Regions from separate parts of the Homo sapiens genome. Here region 1 is linked to region 2. A link means that fine-mapping ties the variant in region 2 to the expression of a gene that starts in the linked region. Tissue or cell type: whole blood. Region 2 holds a variant in brackets; the other region holds the start of a gene. All regions are shown on one strand. Distances are between the middles of the regions.

Evidence for each region. PIP is the estimated chance that this variant, and not a neighbour inherited with it, causes the effect.
Region 1: it holds the start of SMAP2, and the variant in region 2 is fine-mapped to the expression of SMAP2 in whole blood (INTERVAL, PIP above 0.99).

What each region holds. Positions count from the first base shown.
Region 1 is chr1:40,370,294-40,377,477 of GRCh38, forward strand. It overlaps SMAP2 (small ArfGAP2), which reads left to right and starts at 3,434. Exons shown (of 10, transcript NM_022733.3): 1 at 3,434-3,930. The coding sequence starts at 3,828. RefSeq lists silencers at 3,177-3,496, 3,567-3,706 and an enhancer at 3,692-4,191.
Region 2 is chr1:40,396,382-40,403,565 of GRCh38, forward strand. All of the region lies in intron 1 of SMAP2 (small ArfGAP2), which reads left to right. Among named protein-coding and RNA genes, the nearest start is that of SMAP2, 26 kb to the left of the region's middle. The variant CA/C (reference allele first, on the strand shown) is at 3,320.

The sequences.
Region 1 (7,184 bases), 26 kb before region 2:
GTGGCGATTCCTCAGGGATCTAGAACTAGAAATACCATTTGACCCAGCCATCCCATTACTGGGTATATACCCAAATGACTATAAATCATGCTGCTATAAAGACACATGCACACGTATGTTTATTGCGGCATTATTCACAATAGCAAAGACTTGGAACCAACCCAAATGTCCAACAATGATAGACTGGATTAAGAAAATGTGGCACATATACACCATGGAATACTATGCAGCCATAAAAAATGATGAGTTCATGTCCTTTGTAGGGACATGGATGAAATTGGAAATCATCATTCTTAGTAAACTATCACAAGAACAAAAAACCAAACACCGCATATTCTCACTCATAGGTGGGAATTGAACAATGAGATCACATGGACACAGGAAGGGGAATATCACACTCTGGGGACTGTGGTGGGGTAGGGGGAGGGGGGAGGGATAGCATTGGGAGATATACCTAATGCTAGATGACGAGTTAGTGGGTGCAGCGCACCAGCATGGCACATGTATACATATGTAACTAACCTGCACAATGTGCACATGTACCCTAAAACTTAAAGTATAATAAAAAAAAAAAAAAAAGAAAAGAAAATTCTATAACTGGCCAGGCGCGGTGGCTCATGCCAGTAATCCTAGTACTTTGGGAGGCTGAGGTGGGCGGGTCACGAGGTCAGGAGATTGAGACCATCCTGGCTAACAGGGTGAAACCCTGCCTCTATTAAAATACAAAAAATTAGCCAGGAGTGGTGGCACGTGCCTGTAGTCCTAGCTACTTGGGAGGCTGAGGCAGGAGAATTGCTTGAACCTGGGAGGCGGAGGTTGCAGTGAGCCGAGATCGCACCACTGCACTCCAGCCTGGCGACAGAGCGAGACTCGGTCTCAAAAAAAAAAATTTTATAACTAATGTGGAAACAGTTTTATGATAAGATAACATGTGCATGATGGAACAGAGTGAACATTTTTGCAAGACTAGTCAAAGCAAAATTCAAGACTTCAAAAAAAAAAATGTGTACTTGGGAGGAGCAGTTTGCTTTGTTTATATCCTCAGACCCTGGGCTATGCACTCACTTTACTCTGCTATTAGTAATGATAATAAAAAGAGCTAATACTTGATGTATCTGCTAGGATAGGCTAGCTTATACAGTGGTAAACAAACAAAACTCAATGGCAACACAATGCTTATTTCTTGCTTATGCTAAGTTATCCTCTATGGGCTGGCAGAGAGCTCTTGTTTATCAGCTACACAGAAATCCAGGCTAATAGAGCAACCAACATCTTCAGCATCAATAGTTGCCATGCCAGAGGGAAAGAGAAGCACAAGAGGCTCAAAGCAACAAATAAATGCTTCAGAGACAAAGTAATCCATCCTTTCTGCTCAAACTCATTGGTCTTTCCCAATCACTTGAAGGCCAGGAAATAAAATCCTACCATGTGCTCAGAAGGCAAAACGCCAGAAATATTTAGTGAAGAGCGCTAATTGTCTATCATTCACTATCTACCAAGGGCTGTTCTAATTATATTACAGGCATTATCTCAGCTAAGCCTCATAATAATCTTGTGAAATAGGTACTATTAATGTTATCATCATTCCCATTCTATAGATGAAATAACTGAGGCACCAAGAGGCTAAGTAACCTGCTCAAAGTCACACAGATAATAGGTGGTAAAAGCTGAAGATTTAAACTTAAGCATTCTTGCCCCAGAGTCTGTGTGCTTAACCACAAAGCCATGAGATCTCTCACTAGGTGGGAACAATTTGAGAAACACTGCCATAGGCAATGGAGAGCCACTAAAGGATTTTTTAAGCAGGAAGTGTGAGTCCATCAGAATTGGCATTTAAAAGCTCCCTCTAGAGAGCACGGTGAAGGATTAATTTAACCAGATTTAGACTAAGGCAGGAAGGCTATTTGCAGAGTGAGGAGATGAAGATGGGGAGGGCTTGAACTAAGGTACAATCACCACTCACCGCAATTAACTGGGTTTTGTTGTTGTTGTTGTTGTTTGAGACAGGGTAACGGGGTACATTGGGGGTTGGAGGGGTGGTTCTTACTGTGTTGCCCAGGCTGGATTCCAACTCCTGGGCTCAAGTGATGCTCTGGCTCTGGCATCCTGAGTAGCTAGGACTACAGGTATGTGCCACCACACCCAGTAACTAGTTAATCTTGACTGTCTATTTCAACTGAAAAATGGTTATGGTAATACCTACTTGGATGGGTTTTCTGAGGAAAAACACCCCAATGAACTTGTGTGTTTTTAAAAGTCAAGTCCCCTAGGCATGGCTAGAAGGGAAGAGGCTTAGCCAGAAAATTTAATTGTTGTGATTAATAAAGTAATAGAAATGTTTAGTTTTCCTCTGATGAGATGAAAGCTTTGAGGGGATCCTGGTCTTGGGAGAAAGTAAAGAAATGGAGGAGAGGGTTTCACCAGAGTTTAGATAACTCTTAGCATCTGCTTACTATCTTCCCTGATTAATTATTTCCATGGCAGCCAGAGTGACCTTTTAAAACCACAAATCGGATCATGCTGTTTCCCTCTCCCCTAGTACAGTGCCTGATACTTAGAAATTTCTCAGTAACATCGTGCTCAGTGAATGAATGAATGAATGAGTGAATGAAAACACAAGCCAGATGGCAGGTGGATCCCTAAGGAAAAGGACAGCCAATGAGAAATTATCTGTAGCAACGGTGGCTTTGGATGATGATGTTTAATAATCATTTTTAAGGAGTTGCCTGTTGTGTGCTATGCTTTAATCACTGTCCCCCACCCTTCCCAAATAACGTTCAGTAAAAGTCTGCCACAAAAAACTCGCTGTTTTGTGAGAATTTAAGAAATGGAAGAAGAAACAAACTGTCTGGGCACCAGGCCAAACAATATCCAAAAAGGCAGGAGTCACAGAGGAGAGCTAATGAGTATTAGTGGGAGCAGGTATTCCAAGTGAGAGGTGACCAGAGTCCTCTGAAAATGTGGGGAGGGGGTGACGTTCCTATATCCTGGGTTAGGGGCTTGGACTCTTATATTTGGCTGTTGGAAAAAACAAGCTGGAGGACTTTGGGGTATCAACAACCCTCAGGTTACATAAGGATGATCATAGGGTCGTTGTGAGGATTATGTTGGGATAGTTCATGCAAAGCGCTTAACACAGTGCCTAGCGCATAGTAAGAGCTCAGTAAATGTTAGTTGTTGTCTTCCTTCACTTTCTTCCATTCCCTCCACTCCCTTTCTACCAGGCTCCATTCATTCTCTTCCAAGGACACGCAGGGGGCGTGCCCACCCCTTCCCTCCGCCCCCACCCAAGGCCCGCCCCCCGCTTCTCCACGGATTGGTTCCCGAGAGGCGGAGCTGAAGGAAGAGCCCAGTGCGGCGCGGTGGGGGCGGGGCGCATGCGCGAGCTGGGCAGGGTGGAGGTGGGGAGGAAGAGCTGCCGGAAGTAGGCGGTGGAGGTGGTAGCGGAGCTGACGGCAGCTGCCAGGGAAACCGAGGCGCGGGACGCAAGGCCAGCAGACAGGCCGGCCAGAGGGTCATCTGCGTCCGGCACCCAGGAGGCTCGTGGTCCGCCTTTGCCTGGGCTGAGGGTCTCTGGCCCCGCAGCCTCTCTTGGAGGCGGGCCTGTCCCTAAGCCCGCCAAGGGGCGCCGCGCCGAGGGGCTGCGGAGTGGGGGACGGACGCCCCCGACCCGGGAAGGGGCGTCCGGCGGGGCCGGAGGAGAGGGCTCTCCCCGCTCAGGAGGTGCCCCTGGGCGGGGGACCGGGAGTCCTCAACCCCGGACTGAGGCAGGGGTCTCTGGGGGCGAGGAGGGCGCGTCGCCCTCTGCCCCCGCCGGCACCCTGGCCATGACAGGCAAGTCGGTGAAGGACGTGGATCGGTACCAGGCTGTCCTGGCCAACCTGCTGCTGGAGGAGGATAACAAGTTTTGTGCAGATTGCCAGTCTAAAGGTAGCGCATCCCACCTGGCGGGCCAGGGGTCCAGCCGCGCCGGGGTGGTGGGGGTGGGCTGCGTGAAGAGGCGGTTTCTGAAGCTTAGGCCGCCCAACTCGGCTTATAAGTGGTAACGCGTGCTGCGCTTGCAGTGAGCCTACTGGGCTTTCTGCAGCTGGGGGATTGGTATGGGTAGAGCTTGCGAGGGCGAGTCTGTGTGTGTCGGGGAGGGTGGAGGTGATGGTGCGGGTGGAAGTTGCCTGGCGTGTTCAGGTGAGAATGTCTGTATTTGAGGGCTCTGAATGAGTTCTGGGCCGGCTGTCCAGAGAGAGCTCCCAGCATGTCACTTGCAAAGCTGGGGATGAACTGCATTGCGTGCGTGCGTGCGTGCGTGTGTGTGTGTGTGTGTGTGTGTGTGTGAGAGAGAGAGAGAGAGAATGACGAGGAGGAGGAGGAGGGAAGTGAGATGGCGGAAAGGAAAACTGCTTAAATGATTTTTAAAGGTGGTGATTTTTGCTTCCTGCTATTTGGTTAGCAACTCCTGTCATTTTGCAGCCTTGCTAAGATCTGACAAGAGTGCTTAGGTGACTTTATTCTTCTGGATGTGTGCAGTGGGAAACTGCCTTATGCAGTGACACAGTGCGGATTTCTAGGCAGTGTAGCCCTGGCTTGTAGAGTGCGTTGGAGGCCTATGTATGAGTGGTGGCAGAAACTAGCCGATTATGCCTGTAGTGCAGGATCCGTTTAATCAGTGGAGAGAGAAAGATGAATTCGATGAATTCATTGCTTCCATGGCGATTACACTTCTAAAGGTGAAATATGATCATTGTAAATTGGCAGAACCATTTAGTCTTTGTTTTCTGTGCCCTAGAAGATTCATGATTTGATACAATTAAAAGTCAGTACAATAGGAAATCTTGGTTATTAGTGAAATGTTGGCACTTGACATTTATACAAGCTTCTATGAATCTTTTTTTCCTGTATTTTCTAATTCTTTTGGCATATAATTGGAGGATTGGGAAAATTATTTTCCCTTTGGTTGGGTCGAAATGGATAGTTATATTTTGGGGGCGACAATTTACTTTTGTTCATAATGCAGTGGATTTGCCATGGTTGTTTGCCGTACAGCGTAGTGGGCATATACTATAAAACAAAGATTCAGTTATATTCGTATTTATCTATTTTGAGAAAGGAAGGACATATTTAATTGATGCTTTCACTTAATTACCTTTTATTTTTGAAGAATAAGGTTATAAAAGGAGAACAGGGGAGGGATACATAGACACCTAGTAATGTATTTTAGTGACCTCTACCAACAGATAAATGGAATGTGCCATTAGGAAAACAAATTCCTAGACTTCTTTCCTGAATTTTTGCATTAGCAATAATTCATTTTAAAAAGTATTTTAGAATCAATTTATGTTGAGTAGGTTAGCTTCTTGATTCTTGTTACATCTTCTGTTAGGTCTATTGGAAGATTTGGTTTATTTTAGGAGTGTATCTTGGCTTTATTCAAATTCCCTTATGTCCTCATTTGACAGATCTTGAGTCACAGTGAAGCAACCCACTGGAGTGAGCATTGCTGCATTTGGAGAGTCAGATGCCATTTTGGTGACTAGAACCCCCCCCCCCATTTCTCATATTACCCTTATACTTACTCATATTCCAATAAAATACAGCACATGGAAGAGAGAGGCTGATTCACTACTTCTTCCTCCAAATTTCCATTGCTTTTTATTTATTTTATTTTTTATTTTTATTTTTTGAGACAGTTTCGCTTTGTCGCCCAGGCTGGAGTGCAATGGTGCAATCTCGGCTCACTGCAACCTCTGCCTCCCGGGTTCAAGTGATTCTCCTGCCTCAGCCTCCCGAGTACCTGGGATTACAGGCGCCCGCCACCATGCCCAGCTGATTTTTGTATTTTTAGTAGAGACAGGGTTTCACCATGTTGGCCAGGCTGGTCTTGAACTCCTGACCTCAGGTGATCCACCCGCCTCAGCCTTCCAAAGTGCTGGGATTACAGGTGTGAGCCACCATGCCCAGCCCGAAATTTCCGTTGCTTTTTATTAATAAGCTTACTGGGGATCAGGTTATGAAATATCAGTTAATTCTTAATGAGAACTAGTAACTGCTGGCTTGTAAACTTTATTAACTACTGTTGATGGTAGAATCCTGGATCCTCAATTTCTTTTCAGAAGTTCGTTTTACATTTTACCAGGTGGCTTCAGGGACTTGGTCATTGTATTAAAAATGAGATGACAATGGGTCAGTCATCTTTAGATTATGACAAATAGGCATTTGTTGAGGCCTCTGTTTATCCAATTTATGAATTACCTATCCCATTCCACCCCTCCAAGCCCTCTCACTCTTTTTCCCCTGCTGTTTTCTAATTTTGGTTGTCATAATGATCATTTGGACAACTATCAGATTGTTGAAGGAAAAGACGTTTGGATCAATAAATTGTTACCTGTTAGCGCTGATAAAAAATACATTTCATTGGAGGAGGAATTTAAAAAGTGTTGGCTAAAATGAGAATTGGGTTTCAGTTTATTTACCTGTATTCCTGTGTCCTTTCCTAAAAAATTGGAAGTTAACTGTACAGGATATGGTGAGTGATTGCTCATCTATTAATATCCAGTTAGATGATGTGGCATAGACTATCGACCTATGAGCAGGTATTTTTGCAATGTTCCAAAATATAACTCTTTGGCAATGACTTTTATTTTTAAATTCTTATACTTATTTAGGAACATTTATTAGTTGACTTTCAAGGTATGTGATTTAAACTTCGGAATAGAGGCTGGGTGTGGTGGCTCAAACCTGTAATCCCAGCACTTTGAGAGGCCAAGGAGGGAGGATCACTTGAGTCCAGGAGTTCAAGACCAGCCTGGGCAACATAGTGTGACCTTGTCTCTACAAATAGTTAAAAAATTAGCTGGGTGTGGTGTTGTGCATCTGTGGTCCCAGCTACTCAGGAGGCTGAGGCAGGAGGATCACCTGGGCAACTGAGCCCAGGAGGTCGAAGCTGCAGTGGGCCATGATTGAGTGCCACTGCGCTGCAGCCTGGGTCAGAGAGCAAGACCCTGTCTCTAAAACAAAACACAACAAATAAACATCAGAATAGAGAACAAGCTTGTGTTCTTTTTACTTCGTACAAGTTTTGTTGATCCTGGGGTTTTTAACTGTCCTGGGCACGAGTCTTACCAGTTTCTGGGACCACTAAACCATTCCAGTAATTTCAGTGTGGGAAAGGAAACTGCTTTGGGGCTGCC
Region 2 (7,184 bases):
TAAGAGGATTTCTAAAGTCCTTTCCACCTCTGATTTTCTAATTTTAAATTTCTTGGTGTAGGATTTACCTTTATTCTCTAACCAGTCTCAGACATGTTTTAATTTTCTTTGTCTCAGACATTTTTAAGCTTAACTTATGCTCTTTTTTCAACAGTACAAATGTGGACAGTGTTTCTTTTTGACAAACGGAAACAACATTCTTGCAAGATGGCCCAGATGGAAAGGGACTTGTCTTGCAAGTGTTCTGAAAGCAGAGGTTGATTGCATAAGCCTTTATTTTGGTCTCATGGTTCCTTAAAATGTTTGTACTTACAGAAGTTCAAAGTTACTGTTTATTGTTATTTTGGAATAAGGAACTTGATGAACTCTCTTTTGTGTGGATGAAAACATAGAGGTAAACATACCTCTCAGCAGCCCTACACAATTTTTCCAAGATCCCACTGGTGTTTCTGTGTATTCTTCCTTTTCAGTGAATCAGAGAATGGAGGGATATAATGAGTGGAACTGAGGTAACTGGCACTAGATTTGTTCTTAAAACAAATACTGCTGCTTTTTTTACTTTGACTTCCAAATTTTGGGTCAGAGTTAATGACAAGTTATGTCACGTAGAATTAATCTCTTATAAAATCTGAGTTTGTTGATTTAGGTTTTTCCTTATATGTATGTTGCATTTAACCAGTTTTCAGTGCCTGGTATAGGCTCCATGAACCAAATTTGATTCCGTGTTTTAGGTTCCTCAAGACCTAACATCTTCATAGATTGTTTGTTTCATTTTACGTTTTCAGAACCATTGAACGGTAAGCAGGAAGGGACCTAAAAATTACTGCAAATCATCTACTGTAGTAGTAGGACTGTAGTAGTAGAAAGAACTGTAGGGCTCATTGTTCACCCAATTCACCACATGGGGATCATTTCTCTACCATCCCTGAGAACTGATTACCAAACCTCTGTTTGAACACTGCACTAACTGAGATTTTACAATTTCTGGATATGCTGCATTGGTTTTTACACAACCTTAATTGTTAGAAAATTTTTCTCTAGAGTGTGCTAAAATCAACTTCTACTCCTTGGTGCCAGTTCTGCTTTTGAAGCCTTTCCAAAGTAACCTAATCCGTTTTCTGTGTTACAGCTATCCTTTAAGGCATTTGAAAACTTCTCCCTTCATTTTGCAAAACAGGAAAAATATATACATTTATGTTGCTTATTGACGAATTCATTTAACACACATTTATTGTGTACCATCTTCTGTTTGCTAGCATTGTGTCAAGTGTTTGTGATAAATGATGAAGGAACATGGTCATTGCCTTCCAGAGCTCATAGTCTATTTAGGACAAGAGAGACCTGTAAGCAACTCGAACAAGATATTAAGTATTAGAAGAACAAAGCATACCCTGGGCTATTAGCAATAGAGAAAGTTAGGGTTTATTCCATTGGAGGGCATCACAGATGAACTGGATTTTTAAGTTTGTCAAGCAGGGAATGAGGGAGAAAGCCATTCCAGGTAGAAAGAATGGTGTAGTCAAAGAGATTTGAGTGTGCTGCATATTTCACAATTATGACTTCCTCAGCATGTGTAAAGTACAAGGCTCTCAACAGACTTTATATATTATGTTAAGGAGTTTCAACTTACCCTGCAGCCAGTAAGGAGCCCTGGATGCTTACGTTGTTTTGTTTTTACGATATCTGTACTGGTTTTTCCCATTGCAAAATTAATAGAAAGCTCATTGCAAACAATTCAGAGAGGATATATAGAGAAGAAAATAGATGTTTCATTATCCCATTATCCCGATATAGTAATAATTTACATATAGTCTTCTAGATTTTTTTTCTGTGCATACGCGTACATTTATTTATTTATTTATTTTTTGACAAGGTCTCACTCTGTTCCCTAGGATGAAGTGCCATGGTGCAATCATAGCTCATTGCAGCCTTTGAATCCTTGGGCTCAAGCAGTACTCCCGCTCAGCCTCCCAAGTAGCTAGGACTACAGAGGCATATCACCACACCGAGCTCATTTATTCATATTTTAAAAAAAATGGAATTGTTTCATGTGTACTCTTTTAATACTGGATTTTTAAAATTACTATATCATGGAGATACTTTTATATGAAATAGAGGCTCCAAAATTTTTCCCCGTTAAATGGTGATACCATAATTCCTTAATGTAACCTATTAATGTTTCTAATTTTCATAAAGATGTAATAATGAACATTCTTAACGTATTTCTTTGTGTACTTGACCTGTTTTTTCCCTGATGAATTCTTACAAGTGGGGTCAAAGGATTTACTTAGTTCTTTTGTTTTTTTGAGATAGGGTGTCAATATGTTGCCCAGGCTGGCCTCAAACTCCTGGGCTCAAGTGATCCTCCAACCTCAGCCTCCTGAATAGCTGGGACTACAGACATGTGCCACTGCACCTAGAATACTTAGTTTTAATTAATCTTTAAGCAAATGTTGCTTCCCTGCTATGTTCAAGGAACCATGCTATGCCGTGAGTATATGATAGTGAATGTTACAGGTCTGGTGACAGCTCTTGTGGCACACATAGTTAAGCGGGAAAGACATCTTAAACAATCAAATAATTAGATAGTAACAAAATATGGTATGATTTAGAAAAAGTAAAGGGTGGCCAGGCACAGTGGCTCACTCCTGTAATCTCAGTGCTTTGGGAGGCCAAAGTAGGAAAATCACTTGAGGCCAGGAGTTCAAGACCAGCCTGAGCAACATAGTGAGACCCTGTCTCTTTTTTATTTCATTGATTTATTTTTATTTTTATTTTTTTCAGACAGAGCCTTGCTCTGTTGCCCAGGCTGGAGTGCAGTGGTGGGATCTCGGCCCACTGCAACCTCCGCCTCCTGGGCTCACGTGATTCTCCTGCCTTAGCCTCCCAAGTAGCTGGGACTACAGGCATGTGCCACTACGTGTGGCTATTTTTTTTTTTTTTTTTTTTTGTATTTTTAGTAGAGATGGGGTTTCACCATGTTGGCCAGGCTTGTCTCAAACTCCTGACCTCAGGTCATCTGTCCACCTCTGCCTCCCAAAGTGTTGGGATTACAGGCGTGAGCCACCGTGCCTGGCCCATTTCTTTTTTTTTTCTTTTCTTTCTTTCTCTTTTTTTTTTTTCCTGACTCTTAACACCACTCAATGACCCATCTTTACAAAAATAAAAAATTCAGCTGAGCGTGGTGGCTCATGCATCTAGTCCCAGCTACTTGGGAGACTGAGGTGGGAGGATTGCCTGAGCCTGACAGCCCAAGGCTGCTGTGAGCTATGATCGCACCACTGCACTCCAGCCTGGGTGAGAGAGTAAGACCCTGTCT[CA/C]AAAAAAAAAAAAGAAAAGAAAAGAAAGAGTGAAAAAAAGAGTAAAGGGTAAATGAAAGTTCATAACCTTTAAAAAAAAAGTCCTTATCTTTTAGAGATATATGCTGAAGTATATACAGATGAAATGGTATGATATTTAGGATTTGCTTCAGAATAATCCAGGTTGGAGTTGAGGGGCAGTGGGTGGGAGTATAGCTGAAACAAAATTGGCTAGGAGTTGATAATTGCTGAAGCTCATGGTTAATTATGCTCTGCTTTCGTTTGTTTGAAATTTTCTGTAAGGTAAAAACCAAAAGAAAGGGTAGAAGAGATGTTACAGTCGGGTTTAGACTGGGGAGCCAAGGAAAGACTCCTTTGAGGAAGAAACATTTCAGCTGAGACCCTTGTGATGTATAGGAGTTGGCCAGGCTGCAAGTGGCATTTGGCAGTTAGGGAAAGAGTTTTTTTAGGCAGCAGGAGCAGCATGTACAAAGTCCAGCAAGCCCTGAGGAAGGAACATGTTGGTCCCTTGAGGAAATGAAAGAAGGCTGCTACCATAGGAATTGAGAGGCTGCGGAAGGAGGCATGGGCTAGACCTTTAAGACCTTGGAAACTATGTTAAGGATTTTGTTATTTAATCCAATAGTAATAGAAGAATTTTAAGCAGCACAATGTGGCTTTGCTTCTTTAAGAGCTCAAGTTGGCTGTTTGGTGGAGAATGGTTTTGGTTTGGGCTCAAGGGAGAAGAGAATGTAAAAGTGGAGAGAGAGCTATTAGGAGGTTATTGCAGTGGTCCGAAAGAGTCTGGTGGCTTTAGATTACAGAAATAGTGATACAGATGGAGAGAAGAGATACTGATTTGACAGATATTTTTGTCTTGGTGATGTGGGGGCTGAAGGAGAGAGGTTTCATGATGCATAATTTTCTGACTGACGCAATGGAATGGATGGAGGTGTAGTTGACTAAGATGAAGAAAAAAGGAAGAGATTTTGTAGCAAGAGATTGAGAGCTTAGTTTGGAATATGCTATTCAGAAAATGTGCACCAATTTACATATTTACCTTTGTGTATGAGACTACATGGAAGGTTTATATTTAGAGGTGTGATCTGTACAGATTTGTGTTTTAGAAAGATTATTCTGGTGGTGGGATTCTGGAGACTAATTGCTTGTTAGTCTGTGAGCTTTTTGAATTGAGGAATCTCATCCTTATTTTCTCTGCCTTTGTATCCCCAGTACTTAGCAGGCAAATTGCTTGGCACATAGGTACACAATAAATAATGTTAAGAGAACCAATGCTGGTTGGGCGCGGTGGCTCACACCTGTAATCCCAGCACTCTGGGAGGCCGAGAAGGGCGGATCACTAGGTCAGGAGATCGAGACCATCCTGGCTACCAAGGTGAAACCCCGTCTCTACTAAAAATACAAAAACAAAATTAGCCGGGCGTGATCGCGGGCGCCTGTAGTCTCAGCTACTCGGGAGGCTGAGGCAGGAGAATGGCGTGAACTCGGGAGGCGGAACTTGCAGTGAGCCGAGATCGCGCCACTGCACTCCAGCCTGGGTGACAGAGCGAGATTCCGTCTCAAAACAAACAAACACACACAAAAAAGAACGAATGCTTATAGGTGAGACATGAGGTCTAGGTAGAAATGGATAGATTCTGGAAAAGTTTCCAAGATAGATTCCACAGGATTTGGATGGAAGATGGGAAAGTTCTCTCCCTTCGCGTAGCCTGCCCGTTGAACTTTTTGACAGGTCCGTTATGCCAGCAGGTCTAAATATAGGTAGCCATCAATTTATCAATGTTTTTTCCTCCTCAATATTTATTTGTTTGGAACTCCATAGATTAGAACTCAATGATATAATTATTATAATATTAGTAGTAGCTTGAAGTCCTCCATCACGCTAGTTCCCCTTTTCTGTCTGCTGAGTTGTCAATCCCAGAGCCCCTCTAATCCTGGCAGCTTTGGTGGTGGGGGAAGTTTCAGCAGCAAGAGGAATTTGCAGCAGTAGTTACTCCGTATGTAGAAGCTGTCCAGATGTTGAATATAAGTTGGATATTACGTATATGCTTTTCATTTTACAAATGGAGACATAAGCCCTAGAGAAACTTGTCAAAATACATGCAACAGGTCCGTGTAAACCCAGATTTTTCCGATACTGAACTGGTACTTAGGACAGTTGATTTCTTGACTGATCAACCAAATCCATCTCCATCTACTTTTTTCATTTTCCCTGATCCCTTATTGCAGAGTGATTCTATGTTAGTTTTAGTATTGCTTGATGCTGCCCACGCCTGCTCTTAGGCTCCTGTTGAATATGTGCACTTATGTGTGACCTTGTTCTTGTGTTGTGCCGATCACTACCAGTTTACATCACTTGTCTATCCTCTTTGCTTTCAAAATTGTTTGGCATATTGCCTCTCAGCATTTCTTTTCATTTTAAATTTCAAAATGGCATCTTTTATATTTTTTTCCTTGATTGCCATGACCAATGTGTATTAAACAATTGGTTTATCTCTTTTTATTGATACATAATAGATGTACATGTTTTCAGGGTACAAGTGATATTTTGATACATTCACATAATGTGTAATAACCAAATCATGATAATGCTATATCCGTCACCTTAGACATTTATCTTTTCTTTATGCTGGGAATATTTGAATTATTCTCTTCTACCTATTTTGAGATATATGGTAGATTATTATTTACTATAGTCACTGTACTGATTTATTGAACACTAGATCTTATTTCTTCTAACTGTATTTTTGTATTTTTGTTTTTTTTTTGAGACAAGGTCTCGCTGTCATCTAGGCTGGAGTGCAGTGGTGTGATCTCGGCTCATTGCAACCTCTGACTCCTGGATTCAAGCAATTCTCCTGCCTCAGCCTCCCCAGTAGCTGGGATTACAGGCACGTGCCACCATGCCTGGCTAATTTTTTGTATTTTTAGTAGAGATGGGGTTTCACCGTGTTGGCCAGGCTGACTAACTGTATTTTTGTACCCATTAATCAACCTCATTTCTTCCTCCATCCGCCTACCCTTCCTGGCTTCTAGAACACCGATTTACTCTCTCTTCATGAGATCCACTATTTTTTAACTCACTAACATTTGCAGCAACATGGATGGAATTGGAGGTCATTATGTTAAGTGAAACAATTGGTTTCACTTGCATTTTTGCAAGTTTACCAGATTAAAGTAGGCTGGCCTTATAGCAGCAATACCAGGTACTGTGGAATCCAAGTACCCACCACTTAGGTTGACAGCCTTGGGCCTTCTTTCTTTGCCTGTGTAGTGGGGGCATATGCAAGCACAAGGGCAGGGTGGGGGTGTGTAGCAGAGAAAGGGAACAGGTGAGGGTTTAAAAAGTGCATTTTCAAGAAATATTTTAAGAGAAATAAAGGAAGCTGCTTAAATTTTCATGTTGCCTAGAAGACTTTGAAATTGGGTCTAGGGTAAATTTCTTCTCTCTGTATTCAGTTCATTTTGGTTCTGATATTTTAGGACCAGAACTCATATTCCTTTTTAAAAAAGAAGCACTCTGGCTGAGCGCGGTGGCTCACGCCTGTAATCCCAGGCCTTTGAGAGGCCAAGGCGGGTACATCACCAGAGGTCTGGAGTTTGAGACCAGCCTGGCCAACAAGGCGAAACCCCGTCTCTACTAAAATACAAAAATTAGTGGGGTGTGGTAGCACGCGCCTATAGTCCCAGCTACTCGGGAAGCTGAGGCACGAGAGTTGCTTGCACCTAGGAGACGGAGGTTGCAGTGAGCCAAAATCACGCCGCTGCACTCCAGCCTGGACGACAGAGCGAGACTCTGTCTCAAAAAAATAAAATAAAAAGAAGCACTCCGTGGTGTTGCATAGAGTGTTGGTATATATTACA